4 separate regions of the Homo sapiens genome follow, and regions 1, 3 and 4 are each linked to region 2. The links come from fine-mapping of genetic effects on plasma protein levels. A gene starts in region 2. Each other region holds a variant in brackets. All regions are shown on one strand. Distances are from middle to middle. Region 1 overlaps MGLL (monoglyceride lipase). Region 2 holds the start of PODXL2 (podocalyxin like 2). Region 3 overlaps PODXL2 (podocalyxin like 2). Region 4 has its middle 59 kb from the start of PRR23E.

Evidence for each region. PIP is the chance, under the fine-mapping model, that this variant and not a neighbour inherited with it causes the effect. The UK Biobank Pharma Proteomics Project read protein levels with antibody pairs (Olink). The fine-mapping took linkage between variants from a reference panel, not from the people measured, so its PIPs are less certain.
Region 1: its variant is fine-mapped to the plasma level of the PODXL2 protein (UK Biobank, PIP above 0.99).
Region 3: its variant is fine-mapped to the plasma level of the PODXL2 protein (UK Biobank, PIP 0.99). The variant lies in the coding sequence of PODXL2. If it changes the protein, the assay may bind it differently, which can mimic a change of level.
Region 4: its variant is fine-mapped to the plasma level of the PODXL2 protein (UK Biobank, PIP 0.90).

Annotation. Positions count from the first base shown.
Region 1 is chr3:127,736,475-127,741,474 of GRCh38, reverse strand. The region is part of intron 3 of MGLL (monoglyceride lipase); the gene reads left to right. Among named protein-coding and RNA genes, the nearest start is that of ABTB1, 66 kb to the right of the region's middle. RefSeq lists an enhancer at 2,938-3,500. The variant C/G (reference allele first, on the strand shown) is at 2,101.
Region 2 is chr3:127,626,315-127,631,499 of GRCh38, reverse strand. It overlaps PODXL2 (podocalyxin like 2), which reads right to left and starts at 2,315. Exons shown (of 8, transcript NM_015720.4): 1 at 2,211-2,315. The coding sequence starts at 2,280. LOC107986126 (a long non-coding RNA gene) reads left to right here and starts at 2,537. Exons shown (of 2, transcript XR_001740892.2): 1 at 2,537-2,694. RefSeq lists an enhancer at 1,613-1,672 and silencers at 2,073-2,202, 2,313-2,382.
Region 3 is chr3:127,658,479-127,663,672 of GRCh38, reverse strand. PODXL2 (podocalyxin like 2) reads right to left here. Exons shown (of 8, transcript NM_015720.4): 3 at 2,514-3,295; 4 at 1,362-1,436. Among named protein-coding and RNA genes, the nearest start is that of ABTB1, 12 kb to the left of the region's middle. The variant T/C (reference allele first, on the strand shown) is at 3,203.
Region 4 is chr3:127,131,052-127,136,245 of GRCh38, reverse strand. No RefSeq gene overlaps it. Among named protein-coding and RNA genes, the nearest start is that of PRR23E, 59 kb to the left of the region's middle. The variant A/C (reference allele first, on the strand shown) is at 2,973.

The DNA of each region.
Region 1 (5,000 bases), 110 kb before region 2:
ACCAGGCGGCTTTGTCTTTCCTGGGAGATGGGGTCTGGCTGGGAAGAGCCTGAGAGGGCCATGCCCCCTGGGAGCACCCAGCCTGCCCTGGCATCCAGCGCCACACTCAGGGCCACCCCACAGTCTGTGCTGGACAGGTCCACTTTCCCCCCCAAGAAAGCATGAGGAGTGGGCATGGCCTGGAGCTGGGGTCGCCACACACACCATGTTGTATGTTTCCATTCTCATTCACTCCACCCCACTGTGTCTCTGGATGTCACATCCTAGGTGCTACTGGATGTGTTTCCTGTGATGAAGAAGAAGAACATTGTATCCATGGAATGTAGAGGAAACAGAGACCTAGTTGTCCTGTCTCTCTTTGGGCACAGCTGAGCTCAGGCACCTGGCCACAGAGAGGTTGTCACTGGTCACTGTGGCTGAAGGCCCAGTGGTTAGGTCTACCAGGTCAGGCTCTGTGCTCACTGGGGGTAGCCGTGGGGAGCAGCATTTTCCCTGCTGGCTGGGGCCAGGCATTGGTACCTGCAGCCTGGGCCAGTCCAGCCCCAGGGAAAGCTTGCACTGCTTTGGGGGCGTTCTACTCCCCTAGGCCCTGCCTGGCTGAACAGAACACTTTTCCCGTGCTGTGTTCTTGTATGAAAACAGACGTCCAGAATCCAGCCCTGGGAGGTCCCCACACTACGTCGACACGGCCACATTTTGGCCCCTGCAAGCCTCACCTCCACCCTCAGTGTGGGGAGCTTTCCTTCCAGGCCAGCGTCACACCATTGTCCCCGCACTGGTGACTTCATCCTCCACTTGGAATATATTTTCATCCTGAAGTTTACGTGACTCAGACCACAGGCCACTTCCCTTGGGGTGTACCCCCTACTGCCCTGCACAACCCCCACAGAACTGGAACCTCAGGGCCCCCGCAGAGCCCCTGCCTTCCTTTCTCTTGAATTCTCTAAGCTGGAGGGTGAGGCCAGCAAACGGCGACCTGGGTCCCGGCAGTCCTCAGAGGGGTTTTTGCGAAGTCCACTCAGACTTTTTAAAACTGGAACTGATATGGACAGATACTCTATGATTCCACCTACATGAAGTCCTAGAGCAGTCAAACTCATGAAGACAAAAAGTCAGTGGTGGTTGCCAGGGGGTGGGGGCAGGGAAGACAGAGTTGCTGAACAAGGACCGCGTTTCAGCTGGGGAGGATGGCAGGGTTCGAAGCTGGATGGTGCTGGTAGCTGCATGTCTGTGTGAACGAGCTTCATGCCACAAGTGGTGACTTCGGACAGTGAAGGCGGTCAATTTAGGTTATGCACATTTACCACAAGTTTTTAAAAAGAGAACTAGGAGACTTGACCTTAAAACTGGATTTCTAGCTTATCTTGAACATTTGGAAGACTGGGCCACGCTGGACCCACATTCCTGTGCGGCCTGGACCTGCTGAGGCCAGGGCTTCCCCACTCAGAGCTGCCTGCTGGCCCGCAGGCCTCTGAGCGGGCTCCCACACAGGCAAGGGGACTCGCTGTGTGTGTGTCTGGCCCCAGGCCCACACCTGCATTTTATGAGTCTCTATACGTGCTTCACCTAGACACTGGCCAGCATACAGCAAGTGCTTAGCAAAGGTGCACTGGGGGCTGGCTGCATGCACACTTGGAGGATGGTAGAAAGCATCTCCAGGAACCCCCAAAGCCTCAAAGAAGCAGCACAGTACCACTGGTCCACACCCCTGCGTGGCATCCAGTTGTCCATGTAAGAGTTCCATGAATGAAATCTCAGGCCTGCTGCTCCATCCCAAAGCCCTCCATAAGGTCACCAGCATGGCCGGTTTGCAGTATAATCTTCCAGAGCTTTCTCTCTGCTTTGATATCACGTATGAGCCAAAGGAAACAGTAGTATTTTGTGGGTTTTTAAAAGCATCAGTGGTGAGCTACGTAGGCGTCATTCAGCAATTTAAGCTTTTTCTATCCACAGTGGCTCTTGGAGGTCTTCCCAGGCCAGTTCATACAGTTCACGTTGGCAAGTTATTGAAAGGAGACCAAACTAATAATACTTAATTATTTCTGGTTGGCAGGAGTGGTTTGACTTTTAGTTCTTATTTCTACAACCAATATTTACTGC[C/G]CACTTACTCTGTGTCTTACTGCTCTAAGCACTTTATAGCAATTATCTCAGTTAAACTCACTAACAAGCCAGAGAGGTGGGGACTTTCACTACCCTCAATTTGCAAAGGAGGTGACTGAGCCTCAAAGAAGTTGAACCCCCCACAAGAGGCCTCCCTGTGGTGGATCCGGATTTGATCTGAAGAAGTCTCATTCTGGGGTCTTTGCACTCAGCGGCCACTTGAGGCTTTTCGGGATTTTTCCCAGATAGCTCCCTTGAACATGTTTTACTTTTGCAATCAGAGCAGAGATGCAGTGTGTATCATTTAAGATGCAGGCAAATGGACACAGGCATTTCCTTCATTCCACCTGGTGCCTCCTGAATTGAAGGCATCTTCAATGCTGCCTACTAGAAATTTCTGCGATGGTGGACATGTTCTACCTCTGCCCATCCTGCGTGGAAGCCACTGGTTGCGTGTGGCCGTAGGGCATTGGTAAGACTACAGAACTGAGTTTTTCTGCTTTTTCATTTTAACTGATGTAAATGTAAGCATAGCTGGCCTGTGCGGCTGGTGCAGATTGGGACCGCTTCTTTATACAGTCACACTGTCAGTTGGCATCCAGGGACTCTGTGCCCTGCTGCAGAAGCCCCTCACACCACCCTGCCGCTTGGTACTCAGGAGTGCTCACTCCTACAGGGGCTGGACTGGCCTTCTCCCCCATGCTGGAAGCTGAGCAGTGTGCCCAGATGGAGAGGGCCAGATAATCCCTTTCTAACCTCTCTGCAGGCAGGCCCAAGGAGTGGGACCCAGGCTGCAGGGTGCTCCAGCCTGGCAGATGGCTCCTGCCCAGGACCTCCTTCTGCCTGTCCATGGTTGTGAGCAACCCAGGGCTGAGTGGGTGCTGAACACCAGAAGCCTGACCAGCCTCCACCCTTCCACCAGCAGCTCCTTGGGAGGTAGAATTGTGATTCCAGAAACAAGGCCTCCCAAGGCGTGGCTTGCTCCTGTGTTTGCTGGAGGAATCAACAAGAAAGATCTAGGTTACCATTTCCTGCTTCCAGGAACCAAGAACACATTTTTTTTTTTTTTTTAAAGAGACAGAATCTCACTCTGTCACCCAGGCTGGAGTGCAGTGGTGAAATCACGGCTCCCTGCAGCCTCAACTTCCCGGGCTCAAGCGATCCTCCTGCCTCAGCTTCCCGAATAGCTGGAACTACAGGCATGTGCCACCACACCTGGCTAATTTTTTGTATTTTTTGTACAGGTGGGGTTTCACCATGTTGTCCAGGCTGGTCTCAAACTCCTGGTTTAAGCCATCTGCCCACCTTGGCCTCCCAAAGTGCTGGGATTACAGGTCTGAGCCACTGCGCCTAGCCACACGAGCACTTCTTACGTTATTCTTACTTAGATAATATTACCATGTGCCATATGTGAATGCATAATTAATGCCCGTTTTAAGAAGGAGTTGATGGGCGGTGGCTCATGCCTATAATCCAGACTAGGGCAGGGGATCACCTGCGGTCAGAAGTTCGAGACTAGCCTGACCAACATGGTGAAACCCCATCTCTACTAAATACAAAAAATTAGCCAGGTGTGGTGGTGCATGCCTGTAATCCCAGCTACTTGGGAGGCTGAGGCAGGAGAGTTGCTTCAACCCGGGAGGTGGAGGTTGCAGTGAGCCAAGATTGCGCCATTGCACTCCAGCCTGGGCAAGAAGAGCAAAACCCTGTCTCACAAAAAAAAAAAAAAAAAAAAAAAAAAAAAGAAGCAGTTGATGATTTCACTGTGTCCTGGAGGTGGCCAGTGATGTCCTGGAATTGCAAATGACCCGGGCAGATGTTCCAGTGCGGAGAATACAGGGCCGCTTTGGTCTGCAGCCTCAATTTTCATAATGACCCTTATCATGGCAGTGGGCATTTATTGAGTGCTTCCTGTGTGCCCCGCTCTGTGCTAGCCATCATCCATTCCCTCCCTCACTAATTCTCACAGCACCTTCTGACGTGGGCTTGTGAGTGCCCCTTATTGCAGGTGACGAGGCTGAGCCTTCAGGAAGTGAAGTCACTGCCCAAGGTCACACAGAGGTGACCTCCACCTTACTACAGTCACACATCAGAGGGTGCTGTGAGGATTAGTGAGGGAGGGAATGGATGGTGGCTAGCACAGAGCAGGGCACACAGGAAGCACTCAATAAATGCTCACTGCTATGATAAGGGTCATTATGAAAATTGAGGCTACAGACCAAAGTGGCCCTGTATTCTCCTCACTGGAACATCTGCCCAGGTCATTTGTAATTACTGGCCACCTCCAGGATACAGTGCTACTGGCCTTAGCCTCCTCATCTTCCAACTGGTAGATGGTGACTCTTCCCTCCCAGCTTGGGTTATTATTAAACAAGAGGAGGGCCGGGCGCAGTGGCTCATGCCTGTAATCCCTGCACTTTGGGAGGCCGAGGCAGGTGGATCATTTGAGGTCAGGAGTTCTAGACCAGCCTGGCCAACAAGGTGAAACCCTGTCTCTACAAAAAATACAAAAATTAGCCAGGCGTGGTGACATGCGCTTGTGGTCCCAGTTACTCGGGAAGCTGAGGCAGGAGGATCATTGGAGCCCAGGAGGTCGAGGCTGCAGTGAGCCGAGATTGCACCACTGCACTCCAGCCTGGGTGACAGAGTGAGACCCTGTCTCAAAAAATAAAAATACACAAATAAATAAATAAACAAACAAGAGGAGTAGCAGGCCTGATGGCCTGGCATGGGGCCAGGCATACCGCAAGTGCTTAACAAATGAGGCTCTTTTCTCTTTGCCTTCATTACATCTTAGCTGAATTCAAATTTGGAATAGTGCTTATTCATTCATTAAACCCAGGTGAAAGGAGCCCTTCCCCTCACCCAGCCCTGCCTGGGCAGGGATGCATGAAGCTGAA
Region 2 (5,185 bases):
GGATCAGCCTCAAAGAAATGAAAATCTGACCCAAACAAACACAGAAGGAGGCAAAGGAAGCAGGCTGACATTTGGGGAGGTGAAAAAAACAAGACCCCAGCGATCCTCATGTTTTATCTTACCTTTTCAAATCAGTCCCTGTGATCTGCTCCCGGTGCAAAACTCCTTTCTGATTTCCACCATCAGCTACACCCCACCTCTCCCCTAAGCAGGGTCTTTGAAGTCCAGTCTCCCTAAGCTCTTGGCAGACACCAACATGGGAGGGGCCCTGCAGCATCTGTCACACAGCTCCTCACCCTTAAGTGTCAGCGACAACAGGAACTGCTGAGCACAGTCACGCTACCTCCACTCTGTAAGCACCTGAGAAACAATGCTGACAGGTCCCTGAAGGGCTTCCACACAAAGGTGTGTAAGAAAGAGACACACTGCTAGACACACGCACATGCCCTCCAAGCAGGGGGTAAGAAGTGCGTCATGAAGAGCATGCACGGGAGAGAGGAGCCGGGAGGCAGGCTGCCTGCAGTCCTCACAGCTGGTCACATAAGCACATGGGCAGTTACAGCTGGGCCTGGGTCCATGAGGACGTTGCTGGCCAGTTCTGGTTTATGACTGTCACACAAAGAAATAGCAGACCAATCAATTGATGTTTATTTATTGAATGTCGCCTTTTTCCAAAGAGGATTTACGGCGTGAAAGAATACAGGTGGGTTTGTGTGAGTGTCTGAGCCAACACTGATGGACATGTTTTTCTGTGCACACCACCTAGGGCCTTTCTTCATCCCTAGACTGACTGTGGAGAAAATGTACCCTCCCTGAACTGAGCCTTCCCATGACATGCACAGGAATGTGCGAGGGACCACTTTCCCCTCCCAGCCATTTACCCTGGGATTCTGCCACTCTGAGTCCCAGGTTCATGGCCCACCTCAGGCAAAGACTGTTCCTCCCTTCCCATAGAGACCCTTCACTAGTTTCTCTTTCACTCACACACATCTGGACACAAAGTGCCTGTGTCTTCATGGGCCAGCTGCGTGGGAAATGTCCTGTGCACACTCCTACATGCACATACACACTCCTACATGCACATACACACATCATACTAGGACGCTATTTTGACGTGTGCATCAGAAGTGAAGTTACAGCTGGCTGATGAGTGTGCACAGGCACACATGCACACTTCCTCATCCGGGTATTCCTCCAGCAGCACCAGTCACACCTTAACATACACCGTAACACACTCCCTCTGCTCTGCCAGTGTGTGCAGGAGCTGCTCAGCTATGACCTTATTTGACCCACCTTTGCAGACAGCCCTTCTCCCCGCCATTTCCATAGTGGCCGCCTGCCTCATGGGCTGTCACACCCCATGCCCACCTCCCTACACACCCCCTCCACTAAATCCCCGTCTGCGCTGGAAGCCATCAGGAGGCCCGTCTCTTTCTCTCTCAGGCAGACACATCCCTTTCACACCTGTGCCACACCCCCAGCCCGCCACGCACCCACACAGCCCGCCGCCCGGCGTGGCTGCTGAATGGAAACCACACATCTGAGTCTCACACCTCCCTCGTGTGTGAGCTGCGTGGGAGCCTCCCGCCGTGTGCTGTCACGGGCCTTCCGTGGCTGTACGCCCGTTTTTGTCAGCTCCTAATAGAGTCGCCCAGAACAGGAGAGAATACCCATTCACCGTGACACACTCACACTCCCTCCCGGCAACGCCACGCGTAAACAGCCACCCGCGCCTCAGCGTACCCGCCCCACACTCCGCAGGCGGCCCCTGGGACCTTCACAATGCGGCCTCCTCCCCGCGTGGCTGTCACACACGCCTCTTCCCCCGAGTGCGCAGGCACACAATGCACTCGCACACACACAAGCACACGCACACACATGCACACCCACACGTGCGCGCCCCCCCGGCCCGCGAGGCAGCAGCCTGCGCACCTGCCCCTGAGAGCCGCGGCGTGGGGGCCACGGTGCTGTGTCCCAGCTTCACCGCCGCGCCTTTGTCGGGGGTCGCCCGGCACGCCAGGCGCCCGCCGCGGCCCCCACGCACCCACTCCTCGTGCGCGTGTGTCGGGGCGGCGCCGCGGCCCGGCCGGGACACGCGCGCTCCCGGCGGCGCCGCACTCTGGCCCCTTTGTTGGCGGCCCGGGGAGCTGTCCAGCACCGCGCCCACGCCGCCGCCCGCCCTCCCGCGCTCGGGCCCGGAGCGCACTCACCCCCAACCAGCAGAAGCAGCAGCGGCGAAAGCAGCGGCGGCAGCCGGGCGGCCCGCAGCAGCCGGCCCATGGTGTAGCCGTCGCCGCCTGCAGCCGCAGCGGCGCGGCGCCCGGGCCCGCGTCAGGGGCCGCGCGGGCGGCGGCGGCGGCGCGCGCCCGCCCCATTGGTCCGCATGGCCGTCACTCACGCCCGGCCCCGCCCGGCCGCGTGCCGCGGGCGCGCCCCCGCGGAGACGAAGCGGACGCGCGGGCGGCCGTCCCTCCGCCCGTCCCCCCCGCCAGGCCGGCCAATCAGCACCGCCGAGGCTCGGGGGCTTGGCCCGGCCGCCCGCAGACCTGGGCCTCGCACCTCGCGCCCGGATGCCGCTCTCTCCCCGCGCGGTCACCCGTTCCCTGGGAAGCAGAGTGGGCAGCTGTGGCAGATGGGACTGATGGGACGAGGACGACGCGTGGAAATGACTGTGAGGGTGGACAGAGGCCTGGGGTAAGGAAAGACTTCTCAGGGTACTTAGATTGGGTGAGCCCTGAAGGAGAACCTGAGAGCAAAGAACTGGACTTTAGAGCTAGGCAGTCTGGCTCAGGATCAGATTGGTTCCGAGACCTTGAGTAAATCTCTTCTCACCTCTGGGCCCCACTTGCCCCATTTGCTAACTGGGGGGTTTTAGATTATGAGAGAGGTGCTGACTTCTCTAACATGTGCTCCCTTTTGGCAACTGAAGATCCTTAATATGCCAAGCACTGTAGTGGTAAATAAAACAGGCACATCCCTCGTCCTCATAGTTTAGGCTCGTAGAGAAAACAGACTGAAAAACAAAATGGACACACATATGGTCCTATGATTGCAATTGGTAGTCGGTCTGTTAAGGAGTATAAGGGGCTAGGAGACAGCACAGAGGGGAACCTTATGCTTGCCTTCCTGAAGAAACAGCATTTAAGGTAAGCTGGCTGGCATCTGGAAGGATGAGTGGGTATTAGGTAGGAGATTGGGTTTGGGAGAGAACTTACAAGGCAGAGGGAAAAGCTCACTGATAGAGTTCCTGAGTTAGAAAGAAGCTCAGCCTCTTTTAGGGAGAGAAAAACCCCGACTACCCTTTTAGAAGTACTGCAGCTTAAATATACAGCAACCACAATTTTGTGGAATGTTACTTTATATATACCATATTAGGAAAACACTTCTTTAAAATAACAAATCGTTATTTGAATATGCTTTTTCAAAGTATATCCCCACCCCCCTATGCAGGGGTATAGCATCAGACATTGGAGATAATCTCACGGGACTCTTCCAGACTAAATATTAATACTTAGGAGAAATAGGAGTTGGGGTGGAGGAGCATAGGGAAGAAATGGGTTCCAGACAAAAGAAAGAACATGAGCAAAATGTAGCACCTTTTATTTGGTGGGTGTTAGGGGTACTAGAAAAGTGGCTGTCAGCTGGGCTTGGAAAAGAGAAATCCAGGGTGTGTCTAGACCCAGCTTCCCTCTTCTTTCCTCCTCTGAGGATGAAAGGAGCATCCCTTTGGTTTTTTGTTGTGTTTTGTTTTGTTTTTCTGTTACAAGAAACAAAGATCTTAGAAGCAAACAAGAAATGGAAGGAAACGTCCTCAATTCCATTAAGGGTATCTCCCAGAAACCTTTATTATCATACTTAATGGTGAAACCATACTTAATGATGAAACATTAGAAACATTCTCTTTTAAGTGAATGGAACAAAATAATCCTCACTACCACCACAATGATTGAATATTCTATAAGAGACACTGCAACAAGGCCTGATAGAAGAAATGGGATGAAAGTATTGGGGGAAAACTCATTATTTGCAGGTTTATCTAGAAAATGCAAGATCATCAGTTGGCAAAATAATTGAAAACCAATGAGTTCAGCAAGATTGCTGAATAAAAGATAACGTACAGAAATCAATAGCTTTTCTGTGTATCCTCAATAACCACTTAGAAAATGTAGTAGGAGAAAAGATCGCAATCACAGCAACAATTATTAAAAACTGGAATAAACCAAACCAGATATGTAAGCTCCAAATGAAGAAAACTCTAAAGCTGCCAGGGGTGGTGGCATGTGCCTGGAATCCCAGCTACTTGGGGGAGACTGAGGTAGGAGGATGGATCACTTGAGGCTAGGGGTTTGAGACCAGCTTTGGCAATATGGTGAGACCCCCATCTCTAAGTAAATCAATTAGCCAGGTGTAGTGGTGCATGTCTGTAGTCCTACCTACTTGGGAGGCTGAGGTGGGAGGATCACTTGAGCCCAAGAGTTCAAGATCAACCTGGGCAACAAAGCAAGATGCCATCTCTATGAAAAATTTTAAAATTAGCCAGGCATGGTGGCACACACCTGTAATCCTAGCTACATAGGAAGCTGAGGTGGGAGGATTGCTTGAGCACAGGAGTTCAAGGCTGCAGTGAGCTATGATTGTGCCACTGCACTTCAGCCTGGGTGACAGAGTGAGACTCTGTCTCAAAAAAAGAAACAAAAATTTAAGTGAAGGCAATCCTCAGAATGGGAAGAAACATTTGGAAATCATGTATCTAGAATATACAAAGAATTTTTACAAGTCAGTAATAAAGACAACTCAATGTTTTAAAATGGACAAAGATCTGAATATACATTCCTCCAAATGTCAATAAGCACATGAAAACATGCTCAGCCTCATTAACCATCAGATAAATGCAAATCAAAACCACAATAAGAAACCACTTCTCAGGCTGGGTACGGTGGTTCACGCCTGTAATCCCAGCACTTTAGGAGGCCGGGCTGGGTGGATAGCTTGAGGTCAGGAGTTGGATACCAGCCTTGCTAACATGGCAAAACCCTGTCTCTACTAAAAATACAAAAATTACTCTGGCATGGTGGTGCATGACTGTAATCCCAGCTACACAGGAGGCTGAGGCATGAGAATTGCTTGAACCCAGGGGGTGGAGGTTGCAGTGAGCTGAGATCACACCACTGCACTCCAGCCTGGG
Region 3 (5,194 bases), 32 kb before region 2:
CAAAAGGACTCAGAGGCCAACTCAAAGAGGCTTTCCCTGGCCAAAGATGAGGTATTGAGCATCAGTAAAAATAATAACTGCAATGGATGAAAACACACATCACTTAGGTGAAGATCCATCAGTATAGTGATGGTGGGGGAAACCAACCTTGCTGGGGACTTTTGGATTCAACGCATGCATGTCCCTTCAGTCTTGCCCAGGCCCACTAACAAGAGTAAAGAATTTAAGGCCTAAAACCAGAGACAAAGCAAAACAGAAGAGGAGACAAGAGCAACAAAATCTAGACACTGGAAGCAGATGGTGAGTTAGAATTTCCTAATTTAGCAAACTCTAAAGAGCCAAACCCTAAGCCAAAATGAGGAAAGCTGAGAAGCAATCAGATGCATACTGATTGACACTCCCCAGATGCCCCGGAATAGGGGCCCTGGTTACCTTTGGAAGAGGGGATGAAAATGCTACTAAAAATATGAGCTGGTCGAAAGTTTGCTTAAGAAACGGCTGGGTCCCTAGTTCTTCCCGCAGTGCTGCACAGCCAAGAAATGTCCCTTCTCCCTGGCAGAAGACTGGAAGTTTATTCTTTAAAAAAGATAAAACAGAGGGTCTCTGACCTAGAGAGCATCAGACACAAGTGTGTGTTTTGGGGAGGGAGAAGGTCACTCTGCAAACAGGAAGAGACAGTACATGAATATTGATATTTATGGATACATATTTATAATACTGAAACACCCAGCCCTCTCTCTCCACCCCAGCTCCCAGAACACTGACAACCAACTTGTTATACTTCGAACAGAACAGAAGTTCCCTTTTCAAAGACTCTAATCACCTCAGGAGGAAGGACCTAACAATGCTGCCATTGCAAATTTCTAAGTGATACGGCCCAGCCAGACCACTCTCATGAGAAGCCATAGCTGACAACCCTAGCACTATGCTCAAAGCTTCCAGCCACTTTTTCGATAGAGAGAGCTATGAACAAACTCCACCAGACATGTGTGGAGAGCATGTATATATATGAAAAGGCTGAGACCCAAAACGGAGAAAAGCAACCTATACAGGAAGAAAACAACTCTAAAAAAGACAGAAAGGTTTCAATATCACGGGAGAGGTAAGATGGTGCACACATGAACAAAGTATTCATTTAAATTAAAAAGAGAGGGAAGCAAGAACCAAAGAGCCTTTGGACATTTTAAAATACGAAAGCTCTCTGTGTGTAATGTTGATGGCTGCTGGTATATCCCTGGGCCACCAACTGAAGGACTAAGCCTTCTCCCACGCACTGCTTGTCCCCCCAGCCTGCCCTCTGCCCCACCCTGTCCACTGCCTGCAGCCTTTCCCTGCGGTTCGGAGCCTGGCTGGGCACTCACACAGTCTATGTTCTCTGTCATGTTCAGAATGATGTAGTTTTTCCCAGCCAGATTGCTCCAGTCCTTGCAGATCACCTGTGCGAGGAGACAGAAAGAAGGGCGACAGTTACGAAGGCATAGGAAAGGGACAGGGGAGAGAGCCCCGGTCGGAGGCCTTTTGGGAAGCTGGAAGGTGGAGGCCAGTGGAGGCGTATTACAGCGAGGGGGCTGCTGACAGCCTCTGTGAGGCACCATGCCAAGGAGTACAAACTCGAATGTCTTTGGGGACCAAGCAGGGAATGTATTGAGTGAGAGGAGGAGGCCAGGCATTATTCCCAGGAAGTAGGGGACTATATCAAAGGGGCCAGGCTGCAGAGAGCTTGCCCCACATGCTGGCTTTCAAGGGCAAGTTTATTGTTAATATTCTGGGGCTCCTTTCTTTTCCTTGCGGTGTCAGTGGGTGTGAACACTGACTTGTGCCTGCTATGCACATGGGTGTCGGTGGGGAGGAGGAGGGTGGTGAGATGGGATGGGGAAAGCACAGGTCAGCCACTAGCTCTAGCTGCTGGTAGAATCAGTGCAGAAGTCTAAGTGTGGGCTGGGTGCGGTAGCTAATGCCTGTAATCCCAGCACTTCAGGAGGCCATAGCGGGTGGATCACTTGAAGTCAGGAGTTCCCGACCAGCCTGGCCAACATGGTGAAACCCTGTCTCCACTAAAAATACAAAAATTAGCCAGGCATGGTGGCACATGCCTGTAATCCCAGCTACTCAGGGGGCTGAGGTATGAGAATTGCTTGAACCTGGGCGGTGGAGGTTGCAGTGAACCGAGATCATGCCCACTTCACTCCAGCCTGGGCGACAGAGTGAGACTCCATCTCGGGAAAAAAAAAAAACAAAAGATGTCTAAGGGTGGCAATGGTAACACATGAACAAATGAAACCCAGGCCAGGCCACCAAGTTTCTCCAAAGGCCTTTGCACAGAAGTGTGGGGAGAACACCCATTGTTGGCCCTGAGGTTTGCATCCCCACAAGTTCCATGGGGTTCTACGTGCTGTGGAAAGGGCCTCCCTCCTCAACCTGGCAGATCCTGCCCCCATGCCACACTAGCCCTGGGGATGGCCAGGCTCTGTGAAGAAGGTACAGGGTGGTGGCCCGCATGCCCCTCACTTTACCTGCGTAGAATCCCAGGGTATCCTGGATTGAGCTTCAGCTGCCTGCCCTTCTAGGAGCTGCTGGTTGAGATCTTCTTGTCCCAAGGTAGCAGAGGAAGGTGTCAGTTCCATGTCTCCAGGGGCCAGTGGGGAAGAGGCTGAGGTTCTAGAGCCAAGGGGATCTTCATCTGGGTGCTCGGCCCCACTGGGAGCTGTGGTTTGAGGGAATGAAGGCAAGGCCGGCACCTCCTCGTGCTGGCCAGACAAACCAGCTGCTCCTGCAGTGGCTTCCTCGCTTGCTTCCTGAGGAGCCTCGAACTCTACCCCAAGCCCTGCAGCTGGCAGCACTGTGGCCTCTGCCTCTTGGCTGGTGGAGTCCTGGTCCCCCGGAGTCACTGTAGTTGGGGTGACTGAAGGCAGCAGCAAGCTGGGCCCCATGCTGCTCTCCACCTCCACACCTGATGAGGCCTGGTCCCCGGAGTCTTCATGCCTGCTTTTGGTGGCCCCTGGGGTCTGGCTGCTGCTGGTGAGAGAAAAGTCACGGACCTGAGGCTTGGCTTCTTCTTGGGATCCATTCACAGGGAGCAGCTCCTCCTCTTCCTCCTCCTCTTGTTTCTCTACCTCTTCCTTCTCCCTCTCCTCCTCTTCCTCTTCCTCTTCTTCCTCCTCTCTGGGAGGCATATGCCAGGGAGGCTCAACCAGATTCATCT[T/C]GGGCAAGGGAGAGGGGAGGTTTGGCAGCTCTTGAGCCTGGCTGGTGTCTTCAATGGAACCTGCCTTCTCAGTTAAGTCAGGAAAAACATAATCTAAGGACAGAGATGAAAAGTTCATTCACTTGTTTCATCATTCATTGCTTTACTCAGTATTTACTGGGCAGATGGCATAAAAGAACCACAATACACTGACAGGGCAGGGGTCATCAGGTCATGATGGAGAGGCCAGGGGAGCAGACTGTGGGAGGACACAGGGACAAGGCTAGTCACTGTTTCCTTTATGATGATAAAATAATACAAATTTATCACCAAAACTCAATGAACACAGGAATGTAGAAAGTTTTGTATATTGCATTCCTCCAAAAGAGCCATGAGTAGTTTGAGGTATATATTCTCCACTGTGTTTGTAATGTGCTTGCTTGTCCTCATCTGGGGATTTCACCAAGAAGATCCCACAACAACCCACTAGGAAGGGTCCCCCTACTCCTTTTCTAGTGAGTCGTTATAAGAGTCTTCTTGGTGGAGTCCCCGAAGGAGGTCTGAGAGCCCTCTCATCACTGGAGGAAGTGAGACCCCTCAATTATGACCATTGTTCCTCAACTGTGCTCTTTTTCTGTAATTTAGGCCCTGACAGGAAATGAAAAAGATGTAGGGAGAGCCAGAGAGAGGCCAGGGGCTGAGCCCAGAGTTTTCCAGGGCCTCCCAGAATGTTCAGGGTCACTGTTGGCAATGGGAGAGGGGTTTTTATTCTCCCTGCCATTCTTGGGAATTACATTTTGAAGCAGAGAAGTTAGGAGACTTCCTGGAGATCAGATTGTTTTCTGGCTTTTCAATGAACCCTAGGCCTCTTCCAAATAACTATGCATGAAAGTTATACAACAAGTTTTTTGGAAATTCATTCAAAATATCAGAAGCTGTATCTAGGAAGCAACTTTTATTGGCTGCCATTTTGTTTCAAAATAATAAATATTGTAGTTTTAAAATACTCTTTAGAAAGGAGAGTGGTGGGAACACTTTAAGATAGCGAACTAAAGGTATTCATTTACCTCCTCCTCCAAAACTTTTATCAAATGACAAAAACAATTTTAACTGTCAAAATGAAGATAAAAACATTTTAGAGAAATTTCTGGGAACATGGAAAGCAGATGAGATTATAGGAACAGATAACCCCTCAGCCAAAATAAACATAGGAAAAAATAGCAGGGGAGGAGGCAGGCTTTCTTACCCAGAGTTAGGAAGAGGCACAACTGTGGGAGCAAGGATGTAGAACACAGAAAATTCAGAGAACAGAAGGTAATTTTTAAAAGTCTAATTAGTATCCTCAGAAAGATTACAAAATATTGCATCCCTAAAATAAGACGCCACTCAGAAAATCAAGTAATCTTTAAAAAAGAAAAATTTCTTGGATATTGAAAGTCAATAGTTGATATTTAAAAATTCAACGGATTGAAAATTCAAATTTTTAATGGCTGGGAAAAAAAAAAGTCAAGGAAAAGCCTCTAGGGCAAAAGTGAGAAGACAACAGATAAGAGTTAAAAGATACAGACAACCAATGTAGGAGATCTAATACCTAGCTAATATGATTTCTGGAAAGATAGAACCAACAAAATGGAGAATAATGGAGAGAAACAAAGAAAAAAAGTTTCAGAGCTGGCAACATGAATCTTTGCAATGAAAGCTTGTATCATCAAGGTGAATGATAAAAGACTTACACCTAGCCTCATTCTCATGTGATTTTAGAATTATAAGGAGCAAGAGAAAATCTTAACAGCTCTCAGAGAAAGAACAGGTTATCTGTAAAGGAACAAGAAACAGATTACCAAATTATCATGAAGCTTCTAATTAATATCAGTAGCCTAGAGGAAGAATTTAAAAATGCACTGAAAAATCTGAGGGATGTTTATTTTGAACCTGAAATGTTATATCCAAATAAATGACTACTCAAGTGTGATTGCAAAATAAAGACATTCTCATACATGCAAAGATTTAAAA
Region 4 (5,194 bases), 500 kb after region 2:
AGGTCCCTGGGAGGCCAATCTGCCAACTTCAGGCACCCAGGCAGCAAGAGAAAACCTCTGTCCGGGCTCCCCTCTGGGGTTGGGGGCCAGGCTGGTGAAGAACACAGGCCCTCCCCAGGTAGGACCCAGCCGCTGGAGGAGGACAGTATGTTTTCGTTTTTGCTGCTGCCCCTCTGGAAACCACAGTCAGCTCTGCCTTCCCACGGAAAGAAGCAGGGAAGAGGGACTGGAGCCTGCCTTCGGGGAGCCCAGCTCGGTGCCTGGCACTGCAACCCGGCGCTCTGTTTCTCATCTTGTATGCACCTCGGACGAACTCATCCCGCCGAGGCAGGGCCGCCCGAGTGCAGGGGCTGCGCCGGTGCGTGGCAGGGCCGGGGGCTGCGATGGCCTGGAGAGCCCAGGAAATGGAGACGCTGCTCTGGATTGCTCAGTGGGAGCCCAGGCTCCTAGCAGCTCCTGGAGAAAGCCGACTCCGAGTTTGGTCGGGAGAAAATGACAAAGAGTGGAAATTAGGTCAGCCTCTTAAGGAGGAGGAAAAGAACCCGCGTGACGGCAGAGGGGCCGCGGGGAGGGTGCGGGGGCGGGAGAGCCGCCTCGCAGAGACAGCGGGTAATGGGAAAAGTTTCTCCAATTACGTGAAGAAGAGCGACCGTCCGCGCGATAACGGATGACTGGGAGAGGCAGGCGCTTAATGGGTTTTTCCCTGCGATCAGTTAACCCGAGCCCCGTGGCCCTGGTGACAGCGCGGGCGGGGAGGGCTCGGGCTCAAGGGCCCCCTGCGCTGGCTGTTTTCCAGTCCTGCGCCTGATGACACAGATTTCCCTAACAGTGACAGCGCGAAGAGTTCTCTGGCTCCTCAGACCTGCCCCAGGCAGCCGTCAGCCCGACGCGGGAGGGGAGCGGGCTGGCAGGGCCTGGCTGCAGCCTGGCTGCAGAGGCACCGCGTGCATGGACACAAATGTGTACCCTCCGGGGCCACGCGTGGGGCCAGACATGACCATGCACGGCTAGCCACCACACCACATACAGATGCCCAGCCCGGGGGCACAGCAGGACATGCAGACTCTTACTCACTCACATGCTTACTTCCAGACACACACACATTTATACATGTGCACAGACATCCAGATAGAAAGATGCATGGTGACGCGCTCACTCCCAGACACCAAGGCACACTCAGACACACTCATGTATGAATGCACATATGCACATGGACACAGACACACATGCACACACACAGATGCTCCATAAATATACAAGGACACACACATGCACACAAATCACACCTCCAGACACACACTGCCAGAAGCACGCCTGTGGGCACCATGAGCAGACGCTCCCCCCAACAGGCATGTCCACACAGGCACCCACATGCACCCGTTCACACACACACCATGGGCAGCACAGCTCTCATGAAGAGGCCCCTCCCCAGCCCCCAATATCCCAGCCCTGTAGCATGTTCTCCCTCCTCCTCAGCTGCCTAGGGCAGCCTCCTTCTCCCAGCTCCTGCTTCCAGTCTCACCTCATCCCCGGGTCCAGACCCCACCCCAGCAGAAGCCCAGCTCTGAGGGCCACCATCCCACTCACTGAGCTCCTCCCCACAGGAAGCCCTGTCCTCACTCCACCTCCCAGGAAGGCAAGCCTGTGCCGGCCGCCTTCCCCTGAGAAGATCTGGCTGCCCTGAGCCCCGGGTGATGTCCATCCCTGGTTCACCGGTTCAGTGAATGTGTGCTGAGCCTCCATCGTGTTGTGGAGCTGAATGCCACTCAGGATACACGGGTAAACAACACGGGTGGAGAGTCCGCCTTCATGAGACTTTCCTTCTAATGGGAAAGATGGGCGGTGAGCAGAGGACACATGCATGAGAAGCTCGATGCTGGCGAAAGTAGCCCAGAGCAAGGAGGGGACCAAGCCAGCAGGCAGCGGTGGGGGTGGAGTAGGAAGGCCCCCTTGAAAGGAGGTGAGGGGCTCCAGGCAGAAGGAGCACCACGCAGACAGGAGCAAGGGGCTGCCTGCCCCATTCAGTGGGGGACGGGAGGGGGCTGAAAAGAAGGCCCAAAAGGCACAGAGGCCCCCCCTGTGAGGCTGGACAGGCCACTCTGAGGCCCTGGCTTTGACCCTGAGTGAGACAGGAGCTGGAATGCAGGGAGGCCAACAAAGGCTAGCTCATTAGCCCAGGTGAAAGCTGTGCAGGCCTGGGCCAGCGCCAGTGAGAGGAGTGAGTGTTTGGGTCCTGGGTGTATTTCAGAGAGAGGGCCAAGAGATGTTGCTGATGGGCTGGTGAGGGTGAGGGGAGGTCAGGCCAGCCAGGAGCAATGTCTGAAATGGGAAGAGCCGGTGGAGGGAAGGTCAGAGTTCTAGGGTTTTATCTGGACATGGTTGAAGGTGGAATCATGACCCCCAGCGATATCCCTGTCCCAGTCCCCAGAATATATCACCTTTGTGGCAAATGGGACTTTGCAGGTATGATTAAGTTATGGATCTTGAGATTGGGAAATTATACTGGATTATTCAGATGGCCCAATGTGATTACAAAGTGGGTCCTTATAAGAGGGAGGCCAGAGGGTCAGAGTCAGAAAGGGACCTTTGAGGATGCTACGCTGCTGGCTTTGAAGAAGGAGGCAGGGGCCACGAGCCAAGGATGGAGGCGGCCTCTAGAAGCTCGTCCTCCATCCAGAAAAACCACCTGCCAACACCCTGACGCCACTACTTCTGGCTTCCAGAACTATGAAAGGACACATTTGTTTTGCTTCAGCAGTGAAGTTTGTGGTCATTTGTCACAGCAGGGAGAAGAAAATCATGCAGGCGTGTGCAGTGGGAGCTGTTAGGAGACATCTGTGTGCGCAAGTCATGAGGACTGGTGGCAGGTTGAGATTTGGAGGTCTGCCTCTAGAAGGCATGTGAAGCCCTGAAACTGGGCGAGTACAAGGACCTGCCTGAACCCTGGGAACCCCCAGGTTAAGAGGTCAGGG[A/C]GAGGAGATAAACGAGAAAAGGAGGGTTTCTCTAGAAGCCAAGAAACTGCTTCAAAATGGAAGAAGTGGATAAACAGCAGTGACAGGTTCGTGCAGTGAAAAGCCACCCTCAGTAAGAAGGGATCAGCTGCTGATACAAGCCACAACACCGGTGACTCTCACACCATCGTGCTGACAAAAGAAGCTCTACACAAAAGAACACAGACCATAGGATTCCATTTATATGCAATTCTAGAAAATGCAAAATAATCCTAGTGACAGAAAGCAGATCTTTGGCTCCCCAGGGCTATGGTTTCAGGGTGGGAACTGACTGCAGGTGGGCTCCAGGGGACTTTTTGGGCTGTTGCCAGTGTTCTGTAGCTCGATGTGGCAGTTGTTACAAGTATGAGTGCTTTTGTAAAAACTCATTAAATTGTACGCTTCCAATGAGTGCATTTTACTGTAAGTAAACTCTACCTCAATAAAGCCAATTTAAGAAAAACAACAGAGAAGAGAGATCATGTCAACTCCTGCAGGCAAGTAAGCAGGATGGGGCCTGAGAATTGCTAACCCTGCAGTACCCTTCGGTGGGCCTGGGCCAGAGAGGGTGGCTTAAGAGCCCTGGTGTGGATCATGATGGTCTAAGGTGATCAGGGCACTCAATCGTGTTGACCTGTAGCTGGGAAAGTGTGGTGGGCTTGTGACCCAGCTGTGGCCAACGCTGCCTAGGGAAGTTGGCTGGGGGTCTCTGGGAAAGCTTCTCCCCTAGTGCAACACACAATAACACAGGCAGGCCTTTGTGTCCACCCTATGTCTCCCTGGGGGGGAGCGTGTCACAGGATCGTGGGAGGCTTGGAGCTGCGGCCGGCATTCCCCCCACCATGGAGAGAAGGCAGGAGAAGGCAGAGACACTCACATGGACCCTGGTTTTTTTAGAGGGGTGCTGGGGGGATAGAGTCTCGCTCTGTCACCCAAGCTGGAGCGCAGTAGCACAATCTTGGCTCAATGCAACCTCTGCACCCTGGGTTCAAGGGATCCTCCCACCTCAGCCTCCCAAGTAGATGGTATTACAATCGTGCGCCATCATACCTGGCTAATTTTTGTATTGTTAGTAGAGACGGGGTCTCCCCATGTTGGCCAGGCTGGTCTCGAACTCCTGACCACAAGTGATCTGGCCACCTCAGCCTCCCACAGTGCTGGCATAAAGCACCACACCTGGCACATGCACGCTGGTTTTGTCAGCTCTCTGAAGCCACCCCGGCTGGTTACTCTCCATACCCCCACCCAGACACCCAGGGCTCAGAAGGCCGACCCCTGCAGACTCCAGCCAGCTTGGCTGCCTCTCAGCGACACTGGCCAGTGTGGGTGCTGGAGAGAGATTGCAGGGAAGTGAAAGAGGCTGGGGTGTTGGCTCCCATCCCTCCCTGCTCTGGGCACCCTTATCAGGAGAGGCTGCACCCTTCTCTCCCAGCGGCACCTTCTGTCTGGGACTCCTCCCCTGAGCTCTGGCAACACTGTTTCCTTCCCTAGACCTTCAGGCCTGGAGTGGGAACAGCTCGTAGCATTGCTAACTTCTGGGTGCCTCCATGTCCCCTGTGAGTCCTTGGGACCCTGTCCAGGCCTCTGTAAACAGTCCCTTCACTCAGACCCATGCAACTGCCTGGCTTCTGATTTACAGCTGTTACATGACCATCAAATATGCCTACACCTGAGTGCACTGCTGGTCAGCCGGAAGCACTCCTGACAGGCTCACTGAGCAAGCCCACCACCAATGGGGGCAGACAGCCAAGCAGATAATTATACGATCATAAATGCACGTCACTAAAGGTGAACCCCAGAGTGGCCTTGTCAGAAGCTGATGTACCCCTAGGTTCGGCACTTATGGGAGCTGAAGCATTCCACTTGGAATTAAGGCCATTTCATTGGGAATGTCAGTCTCTTGCAACCAAAATATCCTAATAGTAGTCTTAAACAGGAGGACTTCAATATATGCCGTGTTTTACTCTTGAATCTGGCAGCCAAAAACATAAGGGTTAGAATGTATACAAAAAGCTGAAATTAGTTAAAGCTAAGAACAGAATACACGACCTTTCTAAAACCTTGAAGTACATAAAAATCTGGTGAAACGGCAACAGAATCTGAAGGGGGCAAAAAGCAGAAAACCAGAAAAGATGAGAGAAGGAAGCTTGAAATTATTAACTACAATAGGTATTTAACATTTTGTTTAACAGTAAGTCTAAAGC